Linked DNA regions of Homo sapiens. The protein of the gene in region 2 binds, or shares a complex with, the protein of the main gene of each other region. Each region holds a gene or a part of one and is shown on either strand. Other genes may lie near its edges. The genes, in order: MKI67, PPP1CC, MRAS and CDCA2.

Region 1 (7,281 bases), on a different chromosome or scaffold from region 2:
CAAATCGAATTACCTTTTATATGAAAAGCTATACTTAAAAGACACAAAGGAATACTTACATCAATTTTGGATAATGACTATTTTTAATACTCTGTGCTTTTTCAAAAACGTTTGTTTGTAATGTTAAATATGTTTAGAGGTTTAATCATCCCCAAATGTGCTTATTTGATGCTAGCACTTCTGTGCATCAGTTTCTTCATATACAATAAAGAAATTACATTAGAACCTACATCATGTGATGTTCAATTAAATGGTTGTACATGTCACTAATTTGCCTAGCACATAGTAAATGCTCATTATGGGTAAGCTTTTCATTGTTGTTTTAAAACTACACTGAATTTACTGACAGATTCAAGTCTCTAAACAATAAAAATACTAATTTGCAAGCGACACAAAAAAAAAATCTAAATTCAACTTGTTTTTCCACAGAAAGCTAACACCATGGCAAAGTAGCAGAAGAGACAATTCCTAAACCTATACAAACTAATAATCAGAAGAGTTTGTTAGTAGGTTCTTGGAGTCTTCAGTGTTCCTGTTCTAGCCTGTGATCTTAAAAATTTGAATAAACTATGCAATGGCCTGTCTGTTCTCCATCTGAACCTTTGGAGTCTAAGAATCTCTCTTCCTACCCAGGTCATGTGACCAAACACTTAGGAATTATTTCTAAATTATAAAATCTTGCATGAAGATATATTCAAGGAGTACTGTATAAAAAAGCAAAAGGACTGCCACTGGAGATGAAATGTTTATATTTTTCCTTTTCAAGAGAAAGGTATCTATGGAAAGTGAAAAGCTTCCTTAACCCCAATAAAATAATTTGATTTTAAGGTAACAGGACATCAGAGCAAAGGAAAGACTATCCCTTACAACTGAGAATTTGTTTGGCAGGAGGACGACTATAGATGGGTGTTTCTGAGCTTTGGCACTGTTGACATCTTGGGCCAGATGCTTCTGTATTGTGGGGGCTGCCCTGAGCCTGGTAGGATGCCCACCCTGACCTCTCCTCCGCGATGACAGCGCATGCCCCTGTCCTATATTGTGACATGGAAATTCAAATGAATCCTGGAAGGTTAGATGACCCTCCTGTGAGAACCACTGTTCTCAAGAGATTGCAAATCCATGGCTCCAGCCCATGTTTCTACTGACCCTTGCCAGAATGCTAGGTATTGATCACACCCCCTATGCCAGACACCATCCCTGGCCCTACACACGTGATTAGTAACAAGACAGTCTTTGCCTTTGGGGAGCTCAGCCTAGTGGGAGACAAACCCACAACTCACCCCTGAAGCTGTGGGGTTGGAAATACAAGTTTTCATGCAAGGCTTCCTCAGAGGTGACATTTCACCTGATGCCTGAATGATGGAAATCACACAAGCTTGAGGAAGGGGAGAACTTTCCCATTGTAAACTTCCAAGTGTGTAAGAAGTACCAAGGTGAACAAAGGCTTGGAATGCCTTAGGCGGGAGGAACAAGGTAGGGGATGGGGTTGGGAGGACAGGGTGAGGCCGGGATGGGGTTGGGAGGACAGGGTGAGGCCTGAATCCCGTGTGGTCTGGGAAATGACCACACGGGAAATGACCCCCCTTCTCAGGCCTCTAGTGGGACACATGTCAGAGGCTGATGGGGCACTGTCAGCAACTATACCTGTTATACAGGGACAGGGTTATTACCACCACCAAACAGGACAGCAATATAAGAGGAAACGTTCTCGAATTCCAGGCAGGAAGACTTTCTGTCCCATTTTCCTATTGCCACAAGGAGCCAAGAGACAAGTGTATGGCTTCCTTCCTTCATTCTCTGTGTCCCCAGTGGCCAGGGATGCCCACTGTGGAGGCACCCGGGGGCGCACAGTGTCTTCAGACGCCTGCCTGCAGCCAGTGACATATGAAGATCATCTACATCTTTCTTTACCGCAACATTAGCAAATCGATTTTTTTAATTGGCTTGATTTTTAAAACCACTTAAACATACAAACTAGCATCAAATTTATACTTACAAAACAAAAAAACACAACTATGTCAACTTAGTAACGAATGGGAGAAGCACCAAGGAAAAGTGACGGCAGGACCCAATCCTAGAGCGCGTTTCTGGACTTTATTCTGTGACTAAGGTATTTTCCTCTTTCTCAGCTAAAACGTCCGCGCGCGCCCGCGGGGCTCACCTTCCAAACAAGCAGGTGCTGAGGCTCAGGGGAAAGTGGGGACCGTCGACCCCGCTCCTTTTGATAGTAACCAGGCGTCTCGTGGGCCACATTTTCTAAACAGTAAGTTGAGTATAATCCGTAGGGGAAGGCCAGGTATAATCCGTAGGGGAAGGCCAGAAGCAAATTTACAACTCTTCCACTGCAAAAGAGGTGCGAGTTACTCTGATAGCAAAGGAGCTAAGAAGGGCCCCGTGCCCAATTCACCTATCCCCGGCCACAGAAGCGCACACCGCAGCTAGCTAGCGGGGACCCCAGGACGATCCGACCGCAGCCCCCGGCGCCCCAAAGTCCGGCAGCTGGGGTGTTGTCGCCAGCGCCTGCGCCTCCTGGGAGCTTCCACCGAGACGCCCTCGCCAGAGCCCAGGAGGAGTCGGGCCCAGGCCGCGCGTCTGTCCCCTGCCCGTCCCCGCAGAGCTCGGGGGGTCCCCGCGGCTCAGCCCTCGACCCCGGACAGCTCCCAGGAGTCCCGGCCGCAGCTCACCTGGGACGATCCGGCCCGCAAGGCCACTTGTCGAACCACCGCTCGTCAAGTCGCACCCAAAGTCCGCCGCAGGAGGAGCCGGCGCCGCGCTCACCTCCGCCCGGTAAGCTGCGCCCGCCACGCTCCGCACACACCGGGCCGCAGCCCGCGGGGTCGCGTTCGCTGCACCCCGGCCTGCAGTCCCCGCTGCTCCCGCCGCCGCCTCTGACGGGGACCCGGTGGCCCTACAGGCTACGTCCCCGGGCGCCCGGCTCTAGCGGCTCCCACCGAGTCGAGTCCTCCCGCCCGCCCGCCCGCCCGCAGCGTCAGCCCTCCACTTCCTTCTTCCAGCCCGGCGCGCCCGCCCAATTCAAACGAAAACGAAGATTCAAATTCTGGCGCTAAGCGCTGCGATTGAACGGGAAAGCGCGGCATGGGACCAATAGGAAGGGAGCGCAGGGCGTGGGCGGGGAGGGGGCGGGGAAACCGGGCTCGCGGGGCGGGGCTGGCGTGTCCGCGGGCGAGCCACTCACGCATCCGGAGGAAAATACCTGGGTGCATCCCCGGCGAGGGCGGCTGGCGGAGGGCAGAGGTGGAACACGCTCCCACCGAGATAACCCGTCCTGCTATCCTTTTCTTAAAGGACCAAACATCTGGGACACTATAACATTACTCATTGCCAGAAGATTTAAAACTGCTAAAAATTAAAAACAGGCGGGACGCGGTGGCTCACGCCGGTAATCCCCGCACTTTGGGAAGCTGAAGCAGGAAGATCCCTTGAGCCCGGGAGTTCAGAACCAGCCTGGGCCACCTGGAGAGAACCCATCTCTACAAAAAATTCGCCAGGCGTGGTGGCGCCCCTGTAGTTCTAGCTACTGGGACAGCTGAGGTGGGAGGATCGCTTGAGCCGGGGCGGTCGAGGCTGCAGTGAGCTGAGATCGCGCCACTGCACTCCAGCCTGGGCGACAGAGCAAAGCCCTGTCTCAAAAAAAAAAAAAAAAAAAAAAAAAAAATCGAAACCTTCCTCTTCAGTGCATACATCTTACCAAACACAAAAACAACCAATTATATAAAGTAGTTTGGTGTGTCTTTTCCTGCTATACGTGTATTCTCTTTTTCAAAAGCACAGAAAAAAAGGTCATAACATACACAACACGATTCTATACTTTGTGCTCTCTGCTTTTAAATATCCTGAGGCTATCTCCACTGAACACATTCTCGCTTTTACTCTCTGATGGCTGCAGAGCACTGGGCTTCGGGAAACCATAATTTACTTAATCATTACTATTGCCACATACTTAGGTTTACAATGTTTTGTTATTAGAAAACATTCTTCAATTGAAATGGCTTGTGCATGCCAAGATGGGTGAATCCTAAAATAATTCTACACAGGATTCTATCGGGGTCTGCTTCAGTTGCGCTGGTGGCCATGTGGGCTCAGTAGGCCACCTGGGGTGAAGTGAATGGAGCCTAAACACGCTTTTGGTGACAACGGCCTCTCTGCCCCATCTCACCTCCTCCAGCTCCCCAGCAACCCTTGGAGCTTGGCTCCCTTGATCAGGGAGGCCTCGATGCAGGGGACCCCTGAGGACTTCCTATTCCTTTCAGAGAGTCCATAAGGTCAAAACCATTTATCTAATGACCCTCTGTGTTACTTGCCCTTCTCATTCTCATGCTCCCAAGAGTGTGGGGTGTGGTTCTGCAAATGCAGAAGCAGTGAGGAGACTCCCACTGTCTCCGTTTCAACCAGGTATTACAGAGATTTGCAAAAATGTGAACTAAAGCGCTGTTTTCATTTTGTTGTTTTTTTTCCATAAAAATAAGTTATTGGTGTTAGCATGAAATAGGTGCATCACTATCTTAAAATGAATCAATAAATGAATATTTTTAAATTCCTTAGCCTTAACTTAAAATATATAAATATAGCTAGATATAACCCATCCACATTAACAAAAATTCCTGGTGGTTCTCAATAATTCTTAAGAGTGTAAAGGGACCACAAGATTGAAAAGACTGAGCCCTCTGCTCTAGAGCAACTACAAAGATATCAGCTGCTGATGGAAATAGAGAAACTGGGAAAGCAACATAAAAGCACAGGACAGCAACTCTAAATTGTATGGGCCAAGTCTGACGTAGAAAAATTCAGTGCGGGGATACTATTATATAAACGTTTTAGGGGGCATGAGTTTCCATGTTTTCCCCCATTAAACGATCAAACAAAGCCCACCACTGCATAACCCCATAAAACACAACTTTTCTCATCCTAATTACTGCTTGTTTCCAGAGACAGTTCTTCCACCCTCATGGATGCAGCCTAATTAGAACTAGAAGGTGCTAGGCCAGGCGCAGGGGCTCATGCTTGTAATCCCAGCACTTTGGGAGGCCAAGGTGGGTGGATCATGAGGTCAGGAATTCAAGACCAGACTGACCAATATGGTGAAACCCCATCTCTACTAAAAATACAAAAATTAGTCGGGTGTAGTGGCACACGCCTGTAGTCCCAGCTACTCGGAAGGCTGAGGCAGGAGAATCACTTGAACCCGGGAGGCAGTGGTTGCAGTAAGCCAAGGTCACGCCACTGCGCTTCAGCCTGGGCAACAGAGCGAGACTCCATCAAAAAAAAAAAATAGAAAAGAGAGAGAGACAGAAAGAAAGAACGAAGGAAAGAAAGAAAGAAAAAGAAAGAAAGAAAGAGAGAGAGAAGAAAAAGAGAGGAGAAAAAGAAAGAAAGAGAGAAGAAAAAGGAAGAAAGAAAGAAAAACATTTTGAGTTACTTCTTTGAAACATTTTGAGTTACTTCTTTTCTGTTGTTGCTGTTGTTGTTTTTCTTTTTTGAGATGAAGTCTCACTCTGTCCCCCGGGCTGGAGTGCAGTGGTGCAATCTCTGCTTACTGCAACCTCCGCCTCCCAGGTTCAAGCGATTCTCCTGCCTCAGCCTCCCAAGTAGCTGGGATTACAGGTGTCTGCTGCTAAGCCCAGCTATTTTTTTTTTTTGTATTTTTAGTGGAGATGGGGTTTCACTTTTTTTTTTTTGAGACTGAGTCTCACTCTGTCACCCAGGCTGGAGTGCAGTGGCACAGTCTTGGCTCACTGCAACCTCTGGCTCCTGAGTTCAAGCAATTCTCCTGCCTCGGCCCCCTGAGTAGCTAGGACTACAGGTGTGAGCCACCACGCACAGTTTATATATATATATATATTATGTGTGTGTGTATATATATGTATGTGTGTGTGTGTGTGTGTGTATATATATAGTATACTGTCGCTATATATATGTATATATGTATATATATGTGTGTATATATATAGTATACTGTCTCTATATATAGTATATAGTATGTGTGTATATATATAGTATACTGTATATATAGTAATTATATATAGTATATATACTATATATAACAATTATATATAGAGTATATATACTATATATAATTAGTATATATATTACTATATATATATATATATATATAGTAATTTTAGTAGAATCAGGTTTTCACATGTTGGCCAGCTGGTCTCGAACGCCTGACCTCAAGCAATCCGTCCGCCTCGGCCTCCCAAAGTGCTGGGTTTACAGGCGTGAACCACCGTGCCCAGACTTCTTCCTGGCTTTTAATCTGGTCTCTTGTGGGGAGGTTGCCCACACTTTTCTTCCCAACTTTCTTCTCTGTTACGTAAGTCAGGGACAATGTATAGTTCCTTCCAGACTTCCGTATTCTACTTTCATTGATCTTGGACCTACAAGTCGGTTTTGTAGCTCCATTTTTGGAGTTTTATTTTTTTCATGATCTTCTTTCCATTTTCATCTCCTTTAAATAGTTTCTACTAATATAGGAAAACTACGGATGTATTGTTCTTTATTGGTTATGTTTCTTGTTCTTGGACACAAAGGCATTCCCTAGGGAAATCAGAAGACATCTACAAAATTCCAATAATGATTGAAACAAATCTCAAAATTCAACTAAAAGTAAACTCAAAAAGAAATGCATTTAAAAATATTAGGCTGATTAATTTTTTAAGATGTCAGTAATCTAAGATATCCAATATGATGCTTTGCCAATCTATGAACAAGAAAAGTCTGATTATAACAGCTTACATTATAGCAAAATGCCCCATTACACAGGCATCAAATGAATTTCTTATCACTTAGTCATCTCTGCTAAAACAAAACAAAACTCTTCATGACTGGACTTTCGTCATACTTCTCTCCACACACTAGTAACCTCTCTAACAACTCCAACAATTATGTTGACTGCAGAATACACATTCCCTGTATGTACTGCTCTGATTGTTTTCCTATTTGTACCCAATGCTCCTGATGATAGTGTCTAGAGCAACATAAGACTAAGCTGCCCATCTTTTCACTGAATAATTTTTCACACATTTGAAGATGAACACAACTCATTCACTTCCTGAAATATTCTCGTTAAAATTTTTATTAGCAGTTTTTGCTGTTATTGTTGTTGTTTGTTGTTGTTGAGATGGAGTCTCGCTCTGTTGCCTAGGCTGGAGTGCAATGGGCATGATCTCGGCTCACTGCAACCTCCACCTCCTGGGTTCAAGCAATTCTCCTGCCTCACCCTCCCGAGTCACTGGGACTATAGGCATATGCCACCACGCC
Region 2 (6,884 bases):
CACTGGAAGATTGTTCCTGCCTCAGGGCCTTTGCACTTGGTGGTCCTTCTGTTGGGAATATTCTTCCCCTATGCCAATCCTTCCCATGACTTTCTCTTTTTCATCCTTCACATCTTGACTCAAATGTCAAATCCTCAGAGTCCTCCTATGTGGTCACATGACCCTTTCTAATTTTCTCACGAAATCGCCACTCTCTGAAATTATCCTCCTCAAATGGTTTATCTGTTCCCCTCTGTGTCTTTCTCTAGACTGGGAGCTCCATGAGGACAGGGACTAAGTCTGGCTTATTCACTGCTATGTCCCCAGCTTCTCACACAGTGCCTGACACCCAGTACGGCCTCGACAAACGTTGCCCAAAAGAATACAAGTGTCTGCCGGTAACACTACAGGATGCAGAGATAGAACTGTGGACGTTGTCAAAGAGCATTCACCCGTATTTTTTCCCCATGGTTCCCTCCTTTGTATAAAACCCCTGGAATATCCAGGGAGGTCTAGATTTGCAGGCAAACTTCATCACCAACACTCAACACTTCTTTCTTTTCTTTTTTTTTTTTTTTTGAGACGGAGTCTCATTCTGTCGCCCAGGCTGGAGTGCAGTGGCACGGTCTCAGCTCACTGCAACCTCCGCCTCCTGGGCTTAAGCGATTCTCATGCCTCAGCTTCTGGAGTAGCTGGGATTACAGGCACCCACCAGCACGCCCAGCTACTTTTTGTATTTTTAGTACAGATGGTGTTTCACTATATTGTCCAGGCTGGTCTCGAACTCCTGGCCTCAAATGATCCACCCACCTCGGCCTCCGAAAGTGCGTGAGCCACTGCGCCCAGCCACCAACACTTCTTCCAATCATCTCACCACAATCCTAATGCTCATTAAATTGGAAGGACGGAGAGAATAAAGTTCATCCCCAGCCTTCTAGAACAGAGTTCCAAATTGCTGGCCTAGGGCCAAATGTAACCCACAGATATGCTTTGTCTGCCTCACACTGTTTTAGAAGATTTTGAGTTCATGACCGACTTTTTAAAATTGGAACATTTAACATAAAAATCCATATGTTCAAGTTTTACCAAAAACTCAGAGGATCTGGCCACAAGTGGCCCCAGGGGACTGGAGCTGAGAAGTGGCCGCCCCCTTGGATGAAACGTGGGCTCAGTTTGCTCCAGTCCCTACCCAGAGGCTGAATTCTTTCGTATTATCAGCCAGGTCCCTTTAGGCACTGGGATCCCCCCTCAAAGCCTAAGTATCCTCAGAGACACTATTGAGTTTCCAATATTTGGCCACAGCCACTCTCTTCTAATCATCAGCTCCCCATCATCTTCAGCAGCCCCTAAGAAAGCTCTGTAGAGCCAGGAAAGACAGTTTGAAAAGTGCACTTTAATCCACTCTCCTCATTTGACAGATAGGCAAACTGAGGCCTAGAGAGGGGAAGGGACATTCCATTTATTAGGCTGTATCCTTTCTGACAGGATGCTTATATCAACTCATCTTTGGAAAGCCACTGGTGCTGATAATGGCAGAAAAAGGCGAATAGGGAATCAGTGCTTTCCTCCACCGGCTATTTGCTGGTTCCTGGGAGCTGTGAGGGCCCACCCTGGTGAGCTATGCCATGCTCAGGCTCAGAGCCAGCTAATCACTTAGGCATGTGCCAGCAGAACTGAACTCTGGAGGGGAGTTGCCCAGCAGAAAACAACCTGGGGACAGAGGCTCTCCCCATGTCCCAGCTCAGTCTGAAGTCCTCCTCCAGCCCTGATGATGTTGCAAGAGGTTAACACACCTGCCATTTTGCATGAGGAAAATTATGGCACTCGTATTGTGGGCAGAGACACAATTCAGTCATTCCACTGGGTTCCAAATTGATATGTGCCCAGTATGTGCCAGGGATGTGAACACTGCTGGGGGTTCACTGCCGGGTTTTACTGAATATGAACGAGGGCTGTGGTTTCAGGCTGTCCTGAGTTCCAGCCCTGACTCTGTAACTTCCTGGCTGTGTGACCTTCAGCAACCACCCTAGCCTCTCTGTGCCTCACTTTCTTCATCTGTAAATGGGGATGATAGGAATAGGACATAATTCCTAGGATTATCTTGGGGATTCAATGAGATCATTTTTTGGCACATACTAAGAAATGAACACAGTAGCATTTTTTTTCTTGTTTATTTTTCTCCACTGCACTTATCAGAAGCTGATATTTTTATTTGCATCTTTGCTTACCATCTGACTGACTAAATGACTCTCCATAGAAAAAAGCCTTGTCTGTCTTGATCACCCCTGCTTCCCTGTCTAGAACAATGCCTGGCACAGAGTGGGTACTCCATAAATATTTGTCTGCTGAATGAATTGCTGTCTTTCATATTTCTACCCTAAATGCCATTCCGATGATGCACCCTGCCCTGGAGTAGCCCAAAGTCCTGTGGACTCCAGCAAGAGCCCCCCCTGACCTCCATAGCCAGATGTTCACAGCAGCGCTGGGCACCAACTCCGAATGTCACCAACTGGGCTCATTGCCTTGGCCTGACAAATGGCACTTATGTGACTTCTGGTGGACAGAGCTGTAGCAGGGGAAAGTGAGTTAGTGCCTGAGGAAAGTGGATCGATAGGCTGAGTTCTGAAACTCAAGGGCCCTGCACCAGTAGCGAGGGGGCCCAAGTAAGGGGACATGGAGCCCGCACCCTGAGGACATTGCTTTGGAAGAGGATGCCTGGGTGGTGCAATTACCTCGTGGCATACTGAGATGGGGATTCGTGCATCCTGCACGCCTTGGGAAACAAAATGAATTTCTCGGAGAGAGGGGGCTTTGCAAAATGTAAAGCGCTGCAGGAAGCAACGTACATGGAAAGGTCAGGAAAGAGAGCCGATCTGTTTGCTGAGTGTGGGCTGTACTTCCAAACCCAGCCAAAGTCGACGCGCAGCCCCTGGAGGTGGCACAGTTTGGGGGCCCCTTGGATAGGAGTGCCCTCGGGGAGGCTGGGAAGCCAGAGAGGAATGGGCCAAAGTTTCTTCGGGTGTCTGCAGAACCCAGGACCGCCCGCGCAGCTTGCATCTTCTCTTCCCGCCCCCGGCCTGCACGCGTGAAATCTGCAAATTCCCCTTTTAACTGCTGCACGCGCTCGTTCAACTTTGCCCTGGCTAGAATCGGGATAACCGTCCCGATGATTACATAACTTTCCGAGTTCAGGGAAGATAAATCCAAGGGACAGAAATGATAAAATTTTCTTTGAGTATGGATTTTTTACCCCTAAAGTTACAGAAGTGCACAAAAAATATATATACAAATACCCATATACCCACCACTCACAATGAGTTAACTGTTACATTTTGACTTATCTGAAAGAGGGTTTTTTCTTTTTAGTTACCAAATAAACCTTTCTCTTGTCCCAAGTTCCAGTATATCTGAATCCAAAATAAGTCAACCTTCTTTTCTTTATTATTCTTTTCCATCCTCACCCCAGATTTATCTTAAAGGGTAAGTTCCAGGACCCCCGAAATCCCTCGGTGAGCTCCCACCTGTCCAGGTCTGCAAACATCTAGACTCAATGCACAAGATCCGGCGATGGCCGCAACCGGCGGTGTGCACAGCTGCATTTCCTCCCCCAGCCCCAACTCCCGCGTGCAACTTTGCAACTCTCGCTCGGGCCCGGCATTGGGGGCGGGCCTATTTACTCGGCCCGTTTGGCGGAAGGATCCCATGCGGGGACGCGGTTGCGCTCAGCCATCTGCGCCCCGCCCAGCGCCCGGGCCCCGCCCCCTCCAGCGCCCGGGCCCCGCCCCCTCCCGCGCCCCCTATGGCCCATAAAGAAGTCCCGGCCGGGCCGCTGCACTCCCCGCGCGCATCCGTGCGCCGCCCGAGGCTGTCTAAGGAGTCGGCGGCCATTTTGTTCTTCTCGTGGTTCCAGTGGGGAGAGAAGGAGGAAGTAGGGAGCGGGGTGGCAGGGGGGGGACCCGCCGCGGCTGCTGCCACCGCCGCCACCACCGCCTCTGCTCGTGGCGTGGGAAAGGAGGTGTGAGTCCCGGGCGCGAGCCGGCGGCGGCGCCGCTGCGGGAGGGTCGGCGGTGGGAAGGCGATGGCGGATTTAGATAAACTCAACATCGACAGCATTATCCAACGGCTGCTGGAAGGTAAGGGGGGCGGCGGGCGGCTGAAGGGGGAGGCGGGCCTGAGGGCGGCAGGCGGCCCCGGGGGCTCGAGGGAGGGGAGTTGGGAGGCCGGTTGGGCTTGCAGCACCGTGGGGAGTGAGCTCCTCGAGTTGGCCCACGGGCCGGGGACTGCAGCCGGAGGGAGGCCAGCCCGGGATTCCCAACTTGTCGCCAGCTGCGGACCCTCCAGGCTCCGCTCATTCATTGCACGAGGATGCAGGCTTCCTCCCGGCCGTGGAATTTGAAAACTCCGCTCCCCACCCCCACGTTTCCCGCCCCTACCCGTTTGCCCCCGCGCACTGGACGGGTCTTTGGAGCGATGGTTGGGGATCCCAGTCCAGCCTCCTGGACGACGTGTGCCGTGCTGTGCGAGATGGACTTTTCGGTGCTCGTCCTCTCGGAAGGCAGTTTGATGAGGGCATGAGTTCCGCCGGGTTTGGGGGCTCTTTTCCTGCTTGCTTTTATTTTTATTTTTCGTGGTTCTGGGGTCTTGGGGGGCCCATTTCTTGTTACTTGGTAACAAGCGTTCATGTCTCAAGAGGTGTGAGAACCTGTCTTCGCCTGCCCTCCAAATCCTTTTAAGTTGTTCTAATCTTGGAGAGGTCTCCGCGCTCTTTTCCTGAGCGTGCATCTGAAGAGGAAGCCAACGAGGCTGACGCTATCATTATCTTTCCAATGTGCCAGGCTCTGTCTTAAGCACTTTGCGTCCATGAATTATTACTGTAATCATAACTGACGCTTCTAAAGCGCTTACTGTGTGTCAGGCATTCTTTGAGCACTTAAGACAGATTTCATTTAATTCTCCCACCCATTGCAAGATATTTGCAATTTTTTTTGTTTTTGTTATTTTACAGAAGAAACTGAGATGAAGTCACTTAACCAAGGTCACACAGTTAGTGACAGTTGGATTTCAAATCCACATAGCCGGGAGCTAGAACCCTCTACAGACAACACTGTCACCTTATGTAGGAAGGAAGGTGGCCAGTGGTTAAGTAAAGGTTAATAGAAAGCTTTAAATTTCGGCTCATCTAAGACTTGTGAGGTGCCTGGCAATTGATTCATGTTGATGTGGGAGAGGGGCGAGGTTCAGCTTTTAAAGACGGAAGCTGAAATGAGCTGCTTTCAGATTCAAGGGCATGTCAACGGATGCTAACATCTTATCCAAGACTTTGTAAGAATTCAGTCATATCCCCTAACTTGGACACTTCATAATGGGAACTTGGCAGTTTCAACTGCTTTTTGCCTTTATACAGTCCTAAAATATTGTTGGACTATAAATGCTGTGAGTGGTGGAGTCGAGGGCATGAACAGTTGGACAGCTCTGGTGTTAGAATTTACAGATCTTTTAAAGTAAGTTATTAAAATGAAGCTCCTGAAAATATCTCGTCCTTTTCTTAATCTGTGCATTCTTTCCTTTTATGCTGTCTTTAAAAAAAAAACAACAAAAAAAACACTAAATGTCATTAAGGACCCCTGAAATGCTCTTGAAATGTTATTGCAGGTGAAAACCTTGTATTGTAGGTGAAAACCTTGTCATTCTTTTAATGCCAGGTATTTATATAAGAACCATACTTTTTCATACTAGTTAATATAGTTCTTTAATTTATTCGAGGCAGCAGTTGGTCAGAAACTGATTAAAATAGTTTGCTGTAAGAAAGGAACTTTTTGTTAAATATTTTCTTTCTAAATTTTAAAATTCTGCTTATCTCTGCAGGGATATGTGTGGCTTTATTTCTCTGAGGAAACAGGAAAAGTTGGAATTTGCATGGATTAGAAACATTAGAATTTTAAGATCATCTAAGGCTTGCTAATTTAAGTTCTGGTTTGCCCATAACTGCCTCTATTCATAAACAGCTTTTGTTAATTTTGATCTTTAAAATTGTAATAAGTACTTTGCCTGGTAAGTAATGATACATCTAAAATGAGATCATTGTTTCTTAATAGTTCCTCTTGTTATGTGGCACTTGAAAACCAGGTTTTCTTATATTTCATTTTTTGCTGAAATTAATAAAGCAGTGCATTTTAATGCCTTGGGAATAGGCTAACTGCAAAGTATACTTAAATTTCTTTTTTTCTCGTGGGTGTTAAATTGGCAGAGAAACAGTTGAAGATGATCCATTGAGGATATGTAGATATCTAAGTTAAATGATGTTGGTAATAAATTCTGTTTTACAATTTTTTATTTAAAAAAATTAAATTTAATAATTTAAAATAGAAATGAGAGTCTCACTGTGTTGCCCAGGCTGTTCTCAAACTCCTGGTTTCAAGCAGTCCTCGCACCTCGTCCTCCCCAGGTGCTGGGGTTATAGTCATGAGCCACCGTGCCCGGCCTAAATTTTATTCTTTTCATAATGCCCCCAAAACCTTTTTTTTCCCTAAATAAGATGTAAGTATATCTGAAAGTAGAGGGAATATGACTTGTGACTTTGGCCAGATTTTTTTACGTGTTTAGAATTGATCTTTTAAGCTTGCGAGCAGTATAACCTAGTTGAGAAGTAGCTGAGTAATAGTACTAAAAAGCTAACTGAAAAGTGAAGTCTTAAGAAAAACAGCATGTTGGTTTAGATCTTAGTCACTAACCTTTGCAGTTCTTTTCTTCTCTGAACTCTGAGTATTTCTGTAAGCGAGGCATCACCTCTGCAACCCACCATGGATGCTTTTATCCAAGCTCTGCCTTGCTGATGATAAAACTTAAGGTTGTTAACTCCTTAGTATAACTGATGTTAGTTATTTAAATAACTACACAGTAAAACG
Region 3 (8,003 bases), on a different chromosome or scaffold from region 2:
TGGCTCACAGTTCTGGAGGCTGGGGAGTTGAAGAGCATGGCACTGGCATCTGGTGAGGGCCCTCCCATGGCAGAAGGCAGGCAGAAGCTAGCATGAGACAGAGAGAAAATTGGACCAAACTTGTCTTTTCTATTAGGAACCCACTCCCTGTAATACTAACCCATTCCCACAGCAATGGCATTAATCAGCTGTGAAAGGCCCCACCTCTAGCAATTAATTTCAACGTGAGTTTTGGAGGAGACATTCAAGCCACAGCAGGGTAGCAGGGAGGAGTAAAGATGAGAAGTGATTGGGCCTGGATTGGTAAAGTCCATGAAAACTCTGAAAGCAGAGTATAAGTTTTTGGCATTACATCATGGGCAGCCCAGGGGAAGAAAGGCCTTGTACTTGGCACAGAAGAAGGGTCAGCTTGAGGAATGAATAAGCATAGGTCGTGGGGGCAAGGTTCTTTTGCTAGCCCATGGTTGGTGCTTCAGGGTCACCAAAAGATCTAATTCCAGCCGCAGGCCCAGTGACTAGAATGAGCACTCGTCTCCTATTCACCTTATCCCTGCTCCGCCAACACCAAACACACACTTGTCCATCAAGGCCACTTGGCATGGGAGAAGAGTATAGGCTTTGTGGTCAGAAGAGCCTGATTCTTAGTCTACCAGCTGTGTAGGATTGGGCTCACAGTCTCCTTATATCTAAGACAGGGCTCAGATGACCTACAGCACAGGGTCAGACCCATCACTATGTCTGGTGTCAGGCACGCTGTGAGTGCTCAGAAACTCACGGCTTCTTTTACCCTTAGGGAATACACTGAAGTTGGGAGGTTTTTTGTTTGTTTGTTTGTTTGTTTGTTTTTGAGACAGAGTTTCACCCTTGTTGCCCAGGCTGGAGTGCAATGGTGCGATCTCGGCCCACTGCAACCTCCACCTTCTGGGTTCAAGTGATTCTCCTGCCTCAGCCTCCCAAGTAGATGGCATTACAGGCATGCGCCACCATGTTTGGCTAATTTTGTGTTTTTAGTAGAGGTGGGGTTTCACCATGTTGGTCAGGCTGGTCTCAAACTCCTGACCTGAGGTGATCCACCTGACTCGGCCTCCCAAAGTGCTGGGATTACAGATGTGAGCCACCGCGTCTGGCCTGAAGCTGGGAGTTCTAGAGGAAGGCTGGGCCACAATGACCTGGTTGACTTCCAGCCCCAAGGTCCCAAGCCCCCACGTTTGCTGCTGAACTAGGCACCAGTTTGGATTGGCTCTGAGGCATGGCACTCAGCAAGCCTCAGGGCAGAGAGGCAAGTGTAGGACATGTTGCAGTGGATGAAGTATGTTTGTTTTGTCCTGCTCTGGGTCAGTTCAGTGGCTCTGACTTTAGCCAGAAATTGGCTCCTGGCCCTGTGTCTGACCTTGGACCTCTGTGGATTAAATTTGGGCCTGAGCCTTGCCTGGGTTTTTGGCTAGGTGTCTGGCCTTCTGCCATGCCTCAAACACACCTGATCAGCCAGGCACATCTGCCAGAGACTTTGGAAAGACTTCTGCTCAATCATCCTTCAGCATATAAGGTTTTCTCCTTCCCTTCTCAGCCTAGCTAATTTTTGTTTTTTGAGATGGAGTTTCACTCTGTCCCCCAGGCTGGAGTGCAGTGGCAGGATCTCAGCTCACTGCAACTTTCGCCTCCCGGGTTCAAGCAATTCTCCTGCCTCAGCCTCTCTAGTAGCTGGGACTACAGGCACCCGCCACCACACCTGGCTAATTTTTGTTTTTTTTTTAGTAGAGACGGGGTTTCACCATATTGGCCAGGTTGGTCTTGAACTCCTGACCTTGTGATCTGCCTGCCTTGGCCTCTCAAAGTGCTGGGATTACAGGCATGAGCCACCACACCCGGCCCTAGCTAATTGTTATTTGTCCTTCCAGATGTGGCTCAGTCATCAGCTCTCACAGAAGTCCTTCCCTTGGCACTTGCCTCCTCGCCATATTGGATTAGGTGCCCTTCCTCTGGTCTTCCACAGTCCCTGTGCTTCTCTGTTCCACACCACTTGCTCCTCAGTTGGCACTCAGCTTGCTTGAAGGCAGGTCTCTGCCCCAGTGCCCGGTACTCAGTAGATGCTCTGGCAGTGTTTACTGGATGAATGAAGCTTTTCTGCTCAGTGGCTCTGTTCTCTAAGCCCCCATTTGCCAGCAACTGAGCCACAACTTGTATTTCAAGGTTCAAAGAGCAGAGGAGGCAGCTCAAATGGAACAGCCCATCCGCAATCGCAATCTGCAAGATTTACTCTCACCATTAGGCAATCTTAGGTAGGTCAAGCACAGTGTCTCACACTTGTAATCCCAGCACTTTGGGAGACCCAGATAGGTGGATTGCTTGAGTCCCAGGAGTTCGAGATCAGCCTCGGGAACATCTCTACAAAAAGTACAAGAAGTAGCCAGGCATGGTGGTGCACACCTATAGTCCCAGCTACTCAGGATGCTGAGGTAAGAAGATGTCTTGAGTCCGGGAGGTCGAGGCTGCAGTGAGCTATGATGCTATGATCATGCGACTGCATTATAGCCTGGGTGACAGAGCGAGACTCTGTCTCAAAAAAAAAAAAAAAAAAAAAAAAAAAAAAGGAGAATCCCAGGTACCTGGGTATGACTATTAGCTGTTTAAGTTCCATTTCTGAGAAGAGGTATTATTACAGATATGTGTATAAAAGCAGTATAAAGACATCTCTTTGACTCTTGCATAGATGTTGGCTCAGCTCAAGCTGAGGGCATGGTCAGGGTCTTGTGCCAGTCAGGGCCCAAGAGAGGACATCTCTTACATGGGGAGCCCACGAGGGGCTGACAGGCCACCAGGATGTACAGATCCCTGCCCGCCTTCCCAAGTTCTGTGGTAAATAGAGGGGGTTGAGGGAGTCAGGTTCCAGGGCAAACCTAGACAGTCGAGGTAAACTACTGTCCCTCAAGCCTTCTCCCCAACCAGGTCTTTTACTCCCTACTGCCAAGGAGAGATACTCTTGATGGCACCCAACCTGCTGTCCCCTTCCTGGGGGACACTTGGGGTCTACAGGGTCTTTGGAGCAGCAGGTGGGAGTGGAGGCACAGGGGGTGCACAGCAGCTCCCACCAAATGGCTGCATGGGTGGCTGGGATGCCAAAGGAAGCCTGCATGGGATTAAGAGCCTCAGCATGGCAGGCAGAGCCAGCAGCACTGTGAGGCTCCCTTAGGCCTGGGGCAAACCTGAGAAGGGAGTGGGTTCCCTGGACATGTAAAGCTGGTTCTAAGTCATTGAGGTCCACCCAGAAAAAGAATGTCCTCAGAAATGATGCTGACAATCAAAACCACAATGAAATGCCATTTCGCCCCCAATAGGATGACTAGAATAAAAAAAGACACACAATTACAAGTGTTTGCAAAGATGTGGAGATATTGGAACCCTCATATGTTGTTGGTGGGAATGTAAAATGGTGCAGCTGCTTTGGAAAACAGTTTGGCAGTTCCCCCAAAAGTTAAACATGGAGTTAACATATGATCCAGGAATTCCACTCTTAGGTATATACCCAAGAGAAAGAAAAGCATATGTTCATACAAAGACTTGTACATGAATATTCATAGCAGCTTTATTCACAGTAGCCCCAAAGCAGAAAACTAAATATCCATCAAGTGATGCAGGGATAAACAAAACGTATAGACATACAGTGAAATATTACTCAGTCATGAAAAGGAATGAAGTACTGCTACATGTTACAACATGAATAGATCATTAAACATTGGTTACTGAAAGAAGCTAGTCATAGTCACAAAAGGCCACATGTTGTATGATTCCGTTTATAGAAAATGTCCTGAATAGGGAAATCCATAGAGATTGAAAGTAGATTAGTGGTTCCCAGAGGCGGAGGAAAGGGGTGAATGAGGAGTGACTGCTAACGGGTAGTTCTTTTTGTGAGGGGCAGGGGAGGGGAGTGGGAAGTGGTGAAAATGTTCTGGAATTAGCTCATGGTGATGGTTGCAAAACTTTGTGAATATGCTAAACACCACTGAATCGTACACTTTTTTTTTTTTGAGACAGCGTCTCACTCTGTTGCCCAGGCTAGAGTGCAGTAGCGCAATCTCGGCTCACTACAACCTCTGCCTCCCGGGTTCACGTGATTCTCCTGCCTCAGCCTCCCGAGTAGATGAGATCACAGGCACGTGCCGCCATGCCGGGTTGACTTTTGTATTTTTAGTAGAGACGGGGTTTCACCATGTTGCCTAGGCTGGTCTTGAACTCCTGACCTCAGGCGATTCACCCGCCTCGGCCTCCCAAAGTGTTAGGATTACAGGCGTGAGCCACCGCGCCCGGCTTGAATTGTACACTTCAAAAGGTGGAATTTTATGGTGTTGAATTATATCTTTATTTTTTTAACGGGGGGAAAATGACGCCGCTGGAGAGGAGTTAGCGGAACTGAAACAATGAAATGGTGCGCGAGTGTCGCCTGTCCCCGTCGCATCCATCCCAACGAAGTTTGGGCCCTGGAACGGTGCACCCAGAAGGCCTGCGGGGAGAGACGCTGGGGCATGATCTGGAAGAAAGACGTCTCAGGATTCGAAGGGAATGCAGCTAAGGTGGCGGCGGAGGTTCGCCTAGGACTGGGGAGGCGTCCCTAGGCTCAGAAGTTGGCCCGGCCGGAGCGGAGATTTAAAGGTTGGAGCGCAGAGGCTCTTAAAGAGGCCGAGTCGAATTCCCACTCGGCGTCCACCTTAAAGCCAGCTCCCCGGCACCACGGATCTGACCCGGGTAAGTGCTGGGCCGCGGGAGAGGCTGCGGCGCCGACCCCAGCCCCTGGCGCTCTAGCGCGCCCTGCCGGGCCCAGGGGACTCGGCGCGGGTGGGCTGGACTTCGTAGGCGCGCGTCCTGGGGGCCGGGGTGCACGCGGGGGCGACAGGGTCGAGGCACCCGGCCCGGGCTCCCCACTGGCGCGCCCGCAGCGGCGCTCTATTTTTAGCAGGCGCTGTGGCAATATAAGGAATGCGCGGCGCGCTAGGCGCTCGGGGCGCACGCTGGCGGCGCGGTCGCTTTAAGGAGGCGCCGGGGCGGGGACGGACCGGAGTGGCCGGCTGGCGGGGAGCCGTCAGTCCGGCGGCCGCGGGGCCCGGCGGGCGCGACGCTGCCTCCTCACCGGCGCAGGCTAGGAGGGGGCGGCCTGAGTGCCGTAGCCGAGCCGGGGCTGGAGCGCGCGGTGAGTGGTCGGGCGGCCTTGGAGGGGAGGGGGCCCGGCCGCGCCGCCTCTCGCCCCGGCCGTCGCTTTGTTCCGGGGCGGGAGGTGTGGCCGCCCTCCGGGCTCGGCCGCGCTCTCCGCTTGCGGGGTGCGCCCTGGGACCGGCTGTGCGTGGCGTTTTGCCCCCATCGCGGGCTCCCGCGTAACGGTGTGCGTTCGTGAAATCGGCCACGACCAAGACCCCAGTGGGGAGGGCCTGCGCGCCGCTCAGAGAGACCCTTTCATGGTAATTACAGTTCCTTGGCTGCCTGGGCGAGAACCCGGTGGATAGATGGGCGGCAGGACGGGGCGGCGGGGGATGGGTGGGTGGGTGGGGGACTCTTTACCCCCCCGCCTTAAGATGGCGTTAACGAGGGGAGGGATCCGCCAGGGAGTTGACAAATTCATCTGAATAATAAAACGCAGCCTGCTTCATAAACAACCCTTCACTGCCCCCGGAGGTTTGGGGAGCTGGAGCTGTGGTCACAACTAGGGCCTGGGCTCATGCATTGAACTGATCTGGCTGAGGCATCAGACACGGTGCCAGTCCTGCCCTGCGGGGAAGACAAGAGCACAAAGTGACAAGCCAGTGTGGTAAGTGCTGAGATTCGGTAAGCCCAGGGGTTGTGGGAGCCCCTAGGGGTCCCTACTGCAGAGTGGGAGGTGAGAGAAGGCCGCCTAGAGGAGTTAATGTCTGGCTGGCCGCAGCGTATACACTGGACACCCAGTTAGACTCTGGCTAGAGCTGAGGTCTGTTCTGGCCTGGGGCAAAGTGGAGTCTGGAGAGGTGGACAGAGTCCATCAAGGCCACTGGGGCCTTGATCATAGAGCTCTGCCATTGCCCCTACTCCCCAATGGCCCCTGATGGTGTGGAACCTCCCTGGCCTTGCTCCTCTAGGACTCACTCTGTCCTGGACCTGACCAGAGAGGGTGGCTGACAAGGCTCGGAATCGTGGCCTCCAGAGGTTTGTCTGGCAGCAGAAGTAAGATGGAGATATGACTTTAAGAGCTCTGAAACTCCACTGTAATAACAGCAACCAACAGGGCTTCCAAAGACCAGGCACTTGAAGTGGATTTGCTCATCATTTGACAAGACACCTCTTGACAAGACACCTCCAGAAGGATTTTGTTTATTGTAAAGGATGGAGGAACTGGGGTGAAAAAGAGCCAACAGCTTGCCCAAGATCATATCTGAAGTCCATGCTTTTGGCCACGTGGCTGTCCTGGGCTTCGGAAGGCTCTGGTGCAGCCTGTGTTAGAGTTTTGTAATATATTGTTTTATAATTATTCACTATAGACATTCACTGGTGGGTTGAAGTGTGAGGCAGTGAGCTGTGGGTATTAATAACTGACTCGTGTCAGAAGCTTAGCAGTGAACAAAGCACTTTCTCGGATACGGTTCTTAGAGCTTCTCCTGCTTCTTTTCCCGGGGAAGAAACTTGAGCTGCTAACATTTTGTAAACCTCCTAATTTCCTGTAAATCACATGTCCCTGCTGAGTGGGGCTGAAAATGTTTCGGGCAATGGTTTTCACCCTTAGGTCTGTTCACACTGCCCAGCAGCCAGTTAGCTTCTCTCTGTAGTTTATGGTGTAGTTTGTCCTTTTTCTGCCGGGGTGGGAGGCATGGGGCTTTCATGCTCTGGGGTTTTTGAGGTCTGCCAGCCTCTGGGGAGGGAGGTGTTGGGCAAGCCTCGTGCTCTGGTGGAAACTGACCCCCTAGATGTGACCTCGGCATTTCCTAAAGCTGGGGGCGGGACTGGGGTAGGCGGTAGTCAAGGCCCTTTGGTGAAGCAAGCGATTGTCTCCAGCGTTGTCAGCTTCGCTCCTCCATAAGACAGTTGCTAATTTCCACCTCTGTTTTCACCTACATAAGACACTTTATGACAGGTTTAACTTTTATGTTATTATTAGCTCTAGCCACTGGTATTTCATACTCAGTTCGTCTGAGCTACTTATAAAGTGACAAGTCCAGCCAGGGCAACATGGTGAAACTCCGTCTCTACAAAAATTAGCTGGGCCTGGTGGCATGCACCTGTAGTCTTAGCTACTTGGGAGGCTGAGGTGGGAGGATTGCTTAAGCCCAGAAGGCAGAGGTTGGAGTGAGCCATGATCACGCCACTGCACTCCAGCTTGGGTGACAGAGCAAGACCCTGTCTCAAAAAAAAAAAAAAAAAAAAAAGTGACAAGTCAGTTACCCTTGGGGTTGGTTTGGTTCCTAAGCTCTAGTGATCACCTGGAACCAGGAATGACTATTGGCCTCTGATAAATTAGGCTCCTGGGATGACTGGTCCTAACCTCAGTCAGAATCACATGTTGACCAGCCTCCTGGATCTAGTGAGTTCTCAGGGAAATGTGGCTTCCATAATATATTTCACATCAGATTTAACCATTGTAATCTGTTCTGCCAATGAAATGCCCCCAAACAGAGTGTGTCTCCCTGAAAGCAATTGAAAAACATACCTGCTCATGAGCATTGTGTAGTTTGTACAAGCATACTCATGTGAACTGAATGGGAATGCATTCTTGTGCAATGCTGGAATGTTCTTAAGTGTCCAGAGGATGTGCATTGAGTTCCAGAGGCTCTGTACCTGCCAGGCCCTGGGCAGGCATAGAAGGTACAGTCACCTTTATCTGGAGACAGGTAAAAAAGGAGCTGGAGGAGTTCCCTGAGACCTGGGACACCTGGCAGGTACCCATTGTCTAGGGACTCAGCAGAGAATTCAAGCTTTAAGAGGAATTTTCTTGCTGGACTCTGAGTCCCTGTCAGCCCTCCTAAGTCTTAGATCATGCCTCTGAGCCCTGT
Region 4 (7,020 bases), on a different chromosome or scaffold from region 2:
CACATAAAACGAATAGGACGAGCACTGGATCTAAGTGACAGAGAAAGTGCAGAAAGGGTTCCAACTGTAACGGTGTTAGGTGTCTCCTCTCACAAAGGCCATGAGGAGCTACTGTGTCAAACCAGAACTAGAAGCATGAAGTAAGAAAAGTCCGTCACGAGAGACCAGCTCTCCATTCACGCGTGCGCGCAGGTCAACTGATCTTCAGTAGTATTATTTTTCTAATATCGCCTTTTGATCGTCTTGACAGGGTTTAGGTAGTTATAAGCCACAAAAATCCCTAGAGCTACTTGAAAGAAGTGAGCAAAGGAGAAATTGCTGAATGGCACCCTGATTTCCATCAGAAGGAAAGCAGTCAGGGGCAGGTATAAGTGCAAGACTCCCAAGCCTGTGGAGTACACCCCACACAGAATCTCCACCTGATCCACCAGCTCCACTGAAGCCATCTGCTTATACCCTGCTCCCCAGTAGAAAAAATACTGCCTAAGGGCAAGACTGTAACTTCCTCCCTTCTTGGAGCATCACCCTCTAGAATACCTCATACGTAGAAGACCCCAGGGCTTACTCTCTTTGTAAGGTTAGTAGTCAAAAGTGAGATCATTATCCAAACTGTTTCTAATAAGTGATAAATACCAGCAACCATAAAATTAACAGGTAGGAAACACACACACACACACGCACACACACACACACACACACACACCCCAGGAACCACAGGGCAGAACAAGGTACTAAAATTGAAGAACGGCACTGACAGCCTTAAAACTGCCTATGCAGAAAACCAACAACTTCATTTTCCTATGCGTAAAGTAAGTGAATTACCTCAGAAAGATCTACAGAAGTTTCAACTGCACATGCTCTGTCTGTATCAATATTGAATATCTGGAGACCAATTACTTTTCCTTCAGCATCCGTCAGATTTTCATCAGAGTCTCTCTGATAGGATATTCTCCGACGTTTGGAGGACAACACTGCAGGGAACCCAGACTGCTGGCAAGCGCTGAGACCTTCCTTTCTGGCTATAAACACAAAATAAAAACAAAACGACACAGGCATAAATGTTTTCATATATATTATATATATTTTTTTTCTTTTCTTTTTTTTTTTTTTTTTTTTTGAGACGGAGTTTCACTCTTGTCGCCCAGGCTTGAGTACAATGGTGCGATTTCAGCTCACTGCAACCTCCACCTTCTGGGCTCAAGTGATACTCCTGCCTCAGCCTCTCAAATAGCTGAGATTACAGGCTCATGCCACCATGCCTGGCTAATCTTCGTATATTTAGTAGAGATGGGGTTTCACCACGTTGGTCAGGCTGGTCTGAACTCCTGACCTCAGGTGATCCACCCACCTCAGCCTCCCAAAGTGCTGGGATTACAGGCATGAGCCACCACGCCCGGCTATTGTGCATCGTAATTTTAGTAAAATCTAGTGCTTAAGTCTAAATTATCAATGAAAAGAAAAATCTACCACACTTTTTTATTCCAAAAAAAATTAAATCTAACTGAAAGGAATGAAAACATGTCTATTGAAAAGATAATACATTCATATTATTAGAATTAAGTTTTTTCAGGCCTTAAAAGGTACAAAGATATACTAAAATACTTTTGCATGTCTAATATGGTACCTCACGCTTTTTAAATGATGACACCTGTTATTTTGAAAGATGTGGTTATGCTCTAATACTCTGTATGACTTTATGAAAAAGACAACCACAACGTACCTGTTTTTTTCTAGCTAAAAAAAAGGAACTGTCTGCAGAATTATAATGATGTAAATAAATTTTAAAACCCAGGAAAAAACTGAAACAATAAGTGAGTCACAAACTACAAATATAAATCGGTACATCTGAATGGGTCACGCACTCTAGAGGTAGATGAGGGGGACTTGTCTTGGGCTAACAGAGCAATCCTCATGGGAGGTGCTGAAATGCACTTAAAGATGGTTCAAGAATTCAAAACAGAATCATTTGAAACCTTAGTGTGTAAAGTACCAGAGAATGGTTATAATGATTACAGTAAGACCAAGATTTTGTCACATTCTGGTATCTGAAATGCTTCGTGATTGGGGGGGAAAAAAAAAAGACTGAAAAAACAACCAAATGAATTACAATCTAAGAGTTAAAGAATATAGCAGATTATCAGATTGGATATATTTGTGTGTGTGTGTGTGTTTTTTTTTTTTTTTTTTTTTTTTTGAAAGGGACTCTCACTTCTTCGCCCAGGCTGGAGTGCAATAGCACGATCTGGGATCACTGCAACCTCCACCTCCCAGGTTCAAGTGATTCTCCTGCCTCAGCCTCCCCAGTAGCTGGAGTTACAGGCATGTGTCACCACGCCTGGCTAATTTTGTATTTTTAGTAGAGACAGGGTTTCACCATGTTGGCCAGGCTGGTCTTGAACTCCTGACCTCAAGTGATCCTCCCGTCTCAGCCTCCCAAAGTGCTGGAATTACAGGCATGAGCCACCGCGCCTGGCTGAATATATTTGTTTTTAACATCAGGGTTGGGTGTTTGGTACTCATATAAAATTTATATGAATTTATTTCATTTACTAAATGCTTGCCGAGCTTAATAATAATCCTGTAAAAATCAAGATTTGTAAACTCAAATTTGCCACAAGCTCTATGGTAAAGGTGAAATGAGCTAATTATCTCTGGCATTTTAAAACTTAAAATTTAATTGCAACCATGCGGAAATGTAGGATTAGGAATGCCTGATAACAGGTTTTTTTTTCTAAGAGAAACCAGAAATCCTTATTTTTGTGTGAAATGTCCCAAATTTTTAATGTTAGTCTCACTTTATAAATATACCTGTGTTCTGAAAAGATTGGCTTCACACTAAATCATTTCATAACTCAGAAGCTTGTCTTTATAAATATTGAAGTCAAAACTGAACGAATTATTTCTACTCACTCAAGTCTGTCATCTCGGACTCTTTTCCTGCCTCTGAGAATTCCAGACAGCCGGTCATTTTCTCGTTTTCCTTTATGGAGTGAAAAGCTGACTGGAAGGCTGATATTCGTTCTCTTAAAGTGTTAACATTTCGATACAGTGCAGGGCTGCCCTGTGAAAGTGCAAAATATACAAGGAGTATTATAATCAATTCATACTTTCTATATTCTAGGCCTACAGCCATTGAATCCAAAATTAAATACAGTACACATATGCTTTTTGAAGATCAGCGGTAAGGAGTTAGTGTGGCAGAGCTTCTTCACCCTGGAATTACCCATTTTCAGTTTGAATAAGGAAGTTTAACACAAAAATGTTGAGAGGCCAGCCTAAGATTATATGGAAGGTGCCAAAAAAACATTGCGCTCTGGGATGGTGCAACAAAAAAGGGACAGGAGGAACCTGTCTATTTGCAATTTTTACCAAATGTTGTGCTGGATGTATCCATAGGAAGCCATCTGCATGGTGCTTGTGTCACAGGTAAGTCTCAGCATACCTCCTTCAGTCCAAGCTGTTTCTACTCAGCACGGGTCTACACATGCCCTCCAGCCCAGGGGCCAGAACGAGACACAGAAGTTCCATACATGCTCAGATACTACACTTGCACTGCTCTCCTTTTTGGCTCTTCCCAGCTAATTTTCCTGATTGTATGGGACCTGGAGGATATTTCCTTCTTAGGGTTGAAAGCCAGCCATTCTCTTAAAATACAAAGTTTGATGGTATAAGCACAGAAGCTCTCTGGAAACCCCGTTAACAGGGTTCCAACCAAAGACTGATAAAATGAAATTTATATTAGCAGGGATAGAAGTGCCAGTTAAAGACAAGTAATATAAAAATTGAGAGTTCCCTTTACATAAAAATTAAATTACAAATGAAGTTCTCTATCTAGATTTTTTTTTATTACTTGGACTACTAACATTTCCACTGATATGAAGTTTGTGGCAATGTTTAAAAATTATACCAATGGGCAAAAAGTGAAGTAAAAATTACCTCCGTTTAAGATATCATACAGAGTAGGCTGGGCACAGTGGCTCATGCATGTAATCCCAGCATTTTGGGAGGCCAAGGTGGGAGGATCACTTGAGGTCAGGAGTTTGAGACCAGCCTGGCTAACATGGTGAAACCATGTCTCTACGAAAAACACAAAAATTAACCAGGCGTGGTGGTGCATGCCTGTAATCCCAGCTATGTGGGAGGCTGAGGTGGGAGAATCGCTTGAACCTGGGAGGTAGAGGTTGCAATGGGCCGAGATCATGCCACTGTACTTCAGGCTGCGTAACAGAGCAAGGCTTGGTCTCAGAAAAAATATATATATATCACAGGGAGAAAAAGCAGTTCATATCGTGAAGCCATGTTTGATGGTGATCTGTTCACACATTTGATTCTCTTCCCAGTTAAATATAAAGCAAATTCTCTATTACATAATGAGAACATTTTACATTGAAATATCCTTGATGACACAAACGTTCACGACATAAACAGCAATAATATTCAAAAAAGGCTTATGTCAATTCATCTAACAGAACGACAGGGAAAAGATGATCTCAAATTCATACAATTTACTTTGAATGTGCTTTTTTTGCACACATATTTGAACATGGTAGGGGCAGATTTAATATCCTAGGAACATGCAGCACTTTGAAATGCTGCTTAAAAAAATTTTAAGTTTCTCTAGTCAAAATTGTTTTTTCTCTATTTTCTACTGGAGAAGGAGAACAATGTTTACATACAAAGCAAATGAAACATTCAAAATGTACTGCTTTTTTGATGTTTTTGTTTTAGGAATTGTGTCGGTCAGTCAACAACCTTCCTTCCATGCACCACAAACTGTTTGAGGGGCTCAGGATCTAGGGAAAATTACTTTATTTTTATTTGAGACAAGGTCTTGCTCTATCAGCCAGGCTGGAGTGCAGTGGCACAATCACAGCTCACTGCAGCCTCGATATCTTGGGCTCAAACGATCCTCCAACTTCAGCCTCTCAAATAGCTTGGACTACAGGCATGTGCCACCACACCCAGATAATTTTTAAAATTTTTCTGTAGAGATGGAGTTTTGTCATGTTGCCCAGGCTGGTCTCAAACTCCTGGCTTCGAACGATCCTCCCTCCTTTGCTTCTCAAAGTTCTGGGATTACAGTGTGAGCCACCATACCCAGCCAGGGAAATTACCGTTTAGAGTGAAATTCTGAAAACATATAAACGTAGTTACAGGTAAAAGAGGTGCTATTGAGAAGAAATATCAGGAATGTGGCTGAGTCCCTAAAAGTGCTGGCTTAGCTAGAATCAGGACAGACCTCTATCTTTAGTAAAATCTGAGTTGAAGCCAAAACAATGAGAAAGAGGTCTAAGGGAAGATGTCACAGGAGGGAGGTACTCTCCAAGAACAAGGGCCAAGGCCTTGAGTGGAAACAGGATGGGGCAGAAAAGCCAGTGTGCCCTGTGAGTGGAAGGAGATGGGGAGAGACTAGAGTGGGCGTACGAAGGCATCAGGAAGGGGTGTAGGTTTAATTCAAGGGATCGCAGGAAGCCATGGGAAGATTCTGAGCAGCCGGGTGAATGATTCGATTTCTACTTTAAATGAATGCCTCTCCTTGACTGCTCTGTGGGATAGCCAATGGATTAGGGAGAACGTAGGAGGCTGCTGCCAGCACAACACACGTACAACATTAAGGTCCTTTTTTTTTTTAATCAGTAGAAGGAGTACACTTTAAATTCATGATACAAAGTCTATAGTAAATGTATAAACCAGGAACAGTCATTCATTATGACTATCAAGTATTATGTATTGTAGGTAACCTTTTGTGCTAGATTTTAATACAAGTGGCAGCACCGTAGAACTGTTTGCACCAGCCTCACCACAAATGCATGAGCAATGCATTGTTTTATGATGTTATATGAGCTACATCACCAGGCCTTAGAAATTTTTCGGCTCCATTATTATGAGACCACCATTGTATATTTAGTCCATCACTGAACAAAATGTCATTATGTAGCACAAGACTGTATCTGACTTTTTAGGGGGATGTATAAAAATTTGAAAAAACAGCTAAATATATCCCCATCAGCAGATAAATAATCTACTCCTCTCCACAAGGTTGTCCCAAATACATTTTGTCCAGGAGACCCTTGCCCCTATACATCAACACACAGTAGTCATGAAAAAATCAGTAACTTAGAGATAAGCTCTTAAAAAGGTAGTAGTGCCTCACCTCATAGAAAAGTAGATCTTAACTAGAAAAAAAAATTGAGAAATAAAATAAAAAGCTCCTCTAGAAAGCTATTTCTATCCAGGGTCTCATAACTCTAAAAATACCCTCGTTTGGGTTGAGCACTGTGGCACACACCTGTAACCCCAGCACTTTGATAGGGATTGCTTAGGGTCAGGAGTTCAAAATAAGCCTGGGCAACATAGTGAGGCCCCATCTCTACAAAAAAAAATTTTTATAATTAGCCCATTGCTGTGGCACATGCCTATAGTTCCAGCTACTTGGAAAGCTAAGGTGGGAGGATTCCTTGAGCCCAGGAGTTCATTGCTGCGGTGGGCTATGATTGCACCAGTGCATTCCAGCCTGGGCAACTGAGATCCTGTCTCTAAAACAAAGCAAACAAAGAAAAATCACCCATGGTCAACATCATCATTTAGGCTAACTGCATTTTTTTTTTTTTTGAGACAGTCTCACTCTGTCGCCCAGACTGGAACATAGTGGCATGATCTTGACTCAATGCAACCTCTGCCTCCCAGGTTCAAGCAATTCTCGTGCCTCAGCCTCCAAGTAGCTGGAATTTCGGGAACCTGCCACCACACCCAGCTAATTTTCGTATTTTTAGTAGAGATGGGGTTTCACCATGTTGGCCAGGCTGGTCTCGAACTCCTGACCTCAAATGATCTGCCTGCCTCAGCCTCCCAGAGTACTGGGATTATAGGCGTGAGCCACCGCGCCCGGCCGCTAACTGCATGTTCTCTAAAACACAGAGAAAATCTCCCTCCAGATTTGAAACAGAGCAGATGCACTAGAAGGTGTAAAGAAAGCACAAAAGCTTCATTAACGGAATTCACGACAGAACTTAGAAGAAA

Evidence for each region.
Region 1: the proteins of PPP1CC (region 2) and MKI67 are in contact, whole or in part, in a crystal structure (PDB 5J28), measured with the Homo sapiens proteins. Residues at the interface, in NP_002701.1 of Homo sapiens: Val19, Arg20, Gly21, Ser22, Lys23, Pro24, Lys60, Tyr70, Asp71, Leu73, Arg74, Glu77, Tyr78, Lys168, Ile169, Asp242, Leu243, Tyr255, Phe257, Arg261, Pro270, Asn271, Ser284, Asp286, Thr288, Leu289, Met290, Cys291, Ser292, Phe293; in NP_002408.3 of Homo sapiens: Arg504, Arg505, Val506, Ser507, Phe508, Gly509, His511, Leu512, Arg513, Pro514, Glu515, Leu516, Phe517, Asp518, Glu519, Asn520, Leu521, Pro522, Pro523, Asn524, Pro526, Leu527, Gly530, Glu531, Ala532, Pro533, Lys535.
Region 3: the proteins of PPP1CC (region 2) and MRAS are in contact, whole or in part, in a cryo-EM structure (PDB 7SD0), measured with the Homo sapiens proteins. Residues at the interface, in NP_002701.1 of Homo sapiens: Pro178, Asp179, Gln181, Gln185, Arg188, Ile189, Met190, Thr193, Asp194, Pro196, Gln198, Leu201, Trp216; in NP_001078518.1 of Homo sapiens: Ala5, Ile31, Gln35, Lys36, Ile37, Val39, Asp41, Glu47, Asp48, Ser49, Leu51, Lys52, His53.
Region 4: the proteins of PPP1CC (region 2) and CDCA2 are in contact, whole or in part, in a crystal structure (PDB 5INB), measured with the Homo sapiens proteins. Residues at the interface, in NP_002701.1 of Homo sapiens: Arg20, Gly21, Ser22, Pro24, Lys60, Tyr70, Asp71, Leu73, Arg74, Glu77, Tyr78, Asp166, Lys168, Ile169, Asp242, Leu243, Tyr255, Phe257, Arg261, Pro270, Asn271, Ser284, Asp286, Glu287, Thr288, Leu289, Met290, Cys291, Ser292, Phe293; in NP_689775.2 of Homo sapiens: Lys391, Arg392, Val393, Thr394, Phe395, Gly396, Asp398, Leu399, Ser400, Pro401, Glu402, Val403, Phe404, Asp405, Glu406, Ser407, Leu408, Pro409, Ala410, Asn411, Pro413, Leu414, Gly417, Gly418, Thr419, Pro420, Val421, Cys422.

What each region holds. Positions count from the first base shown.
Region 1 is NC_000010.11:128,123,415-128,130,695, forward strand, and holds the start of MKI67 (proliferation marker protein Ki-67), read right to left. Parts: upstream 3,010-7,281; 5' UTR 2,685-3,009; intron 2,343-2,684; 5' UTR 2,254-2,342; coding exon 2,162-2,253; intron 1-2,161. UniProt on the Homo sapiens protein: Protein that associates with the surface of mitotic chromosomes and acts both as a chromosome repellent during early mitosis and chromosome attractant during late mitosis.
Region 2 is NC_000012.12:110,739,881-110,746,764, reverse strand, and holds the start of PPP1CC (serine/threonine-protein phosphatase PP1-gamma catalytic subunit), read left to right. Parts: upstream 1-3,873; 5' UTR 3,874-4,057; coding exon 4,058-4,112; intron 4,113-6,884. UniProt on the Homo sapiens protein: Protein phosphatase that associates with over 200 regulatory proteins to form highly specific holoenzymes which dephosphorylate hundreds of biological targets.
Region 3 is NC_000003.12:138,343,586-138,351,588, forward strand, and holds the start of MRAS (ras-related protein M-Ras isoform 1 precursor), read left to right. Parts: upstream 1-4,993; 5' UTR 4,994-5,182; exon of another isoform or gene 5,183-5,447; intron 5,448-5,626; exon of another isoform or gene 5,627-5,794; intron 5,795-6,098; exon of another isoform or gene 6,099-8,003. UniProt on the Homo sapiens protein: Signal transducer in the Ras-MAPK signaling pathway that regulates cell proliferation and survival. Core component of the SHOC2-MRAS-PP1c (SMP) holophosphatase complex that regulates the MAPK pathway activation.
Region 4 is NC_000008.11:25,462,216-25,469,235, reverse strand, and holds part of CDCA2 (cell division cycle-associated protein 2), read right to left. Parts: intron 3,062-7,020; coding exon 2,911-3,061; intron 1,020-2,910; coding exon 823-1,019; intron 1-822. UniProt on the Homo sapiens protein: Regulator of chromosome structure during mitosis required for condensin-depleted chromosomes to retain their compact architecture through anaphase.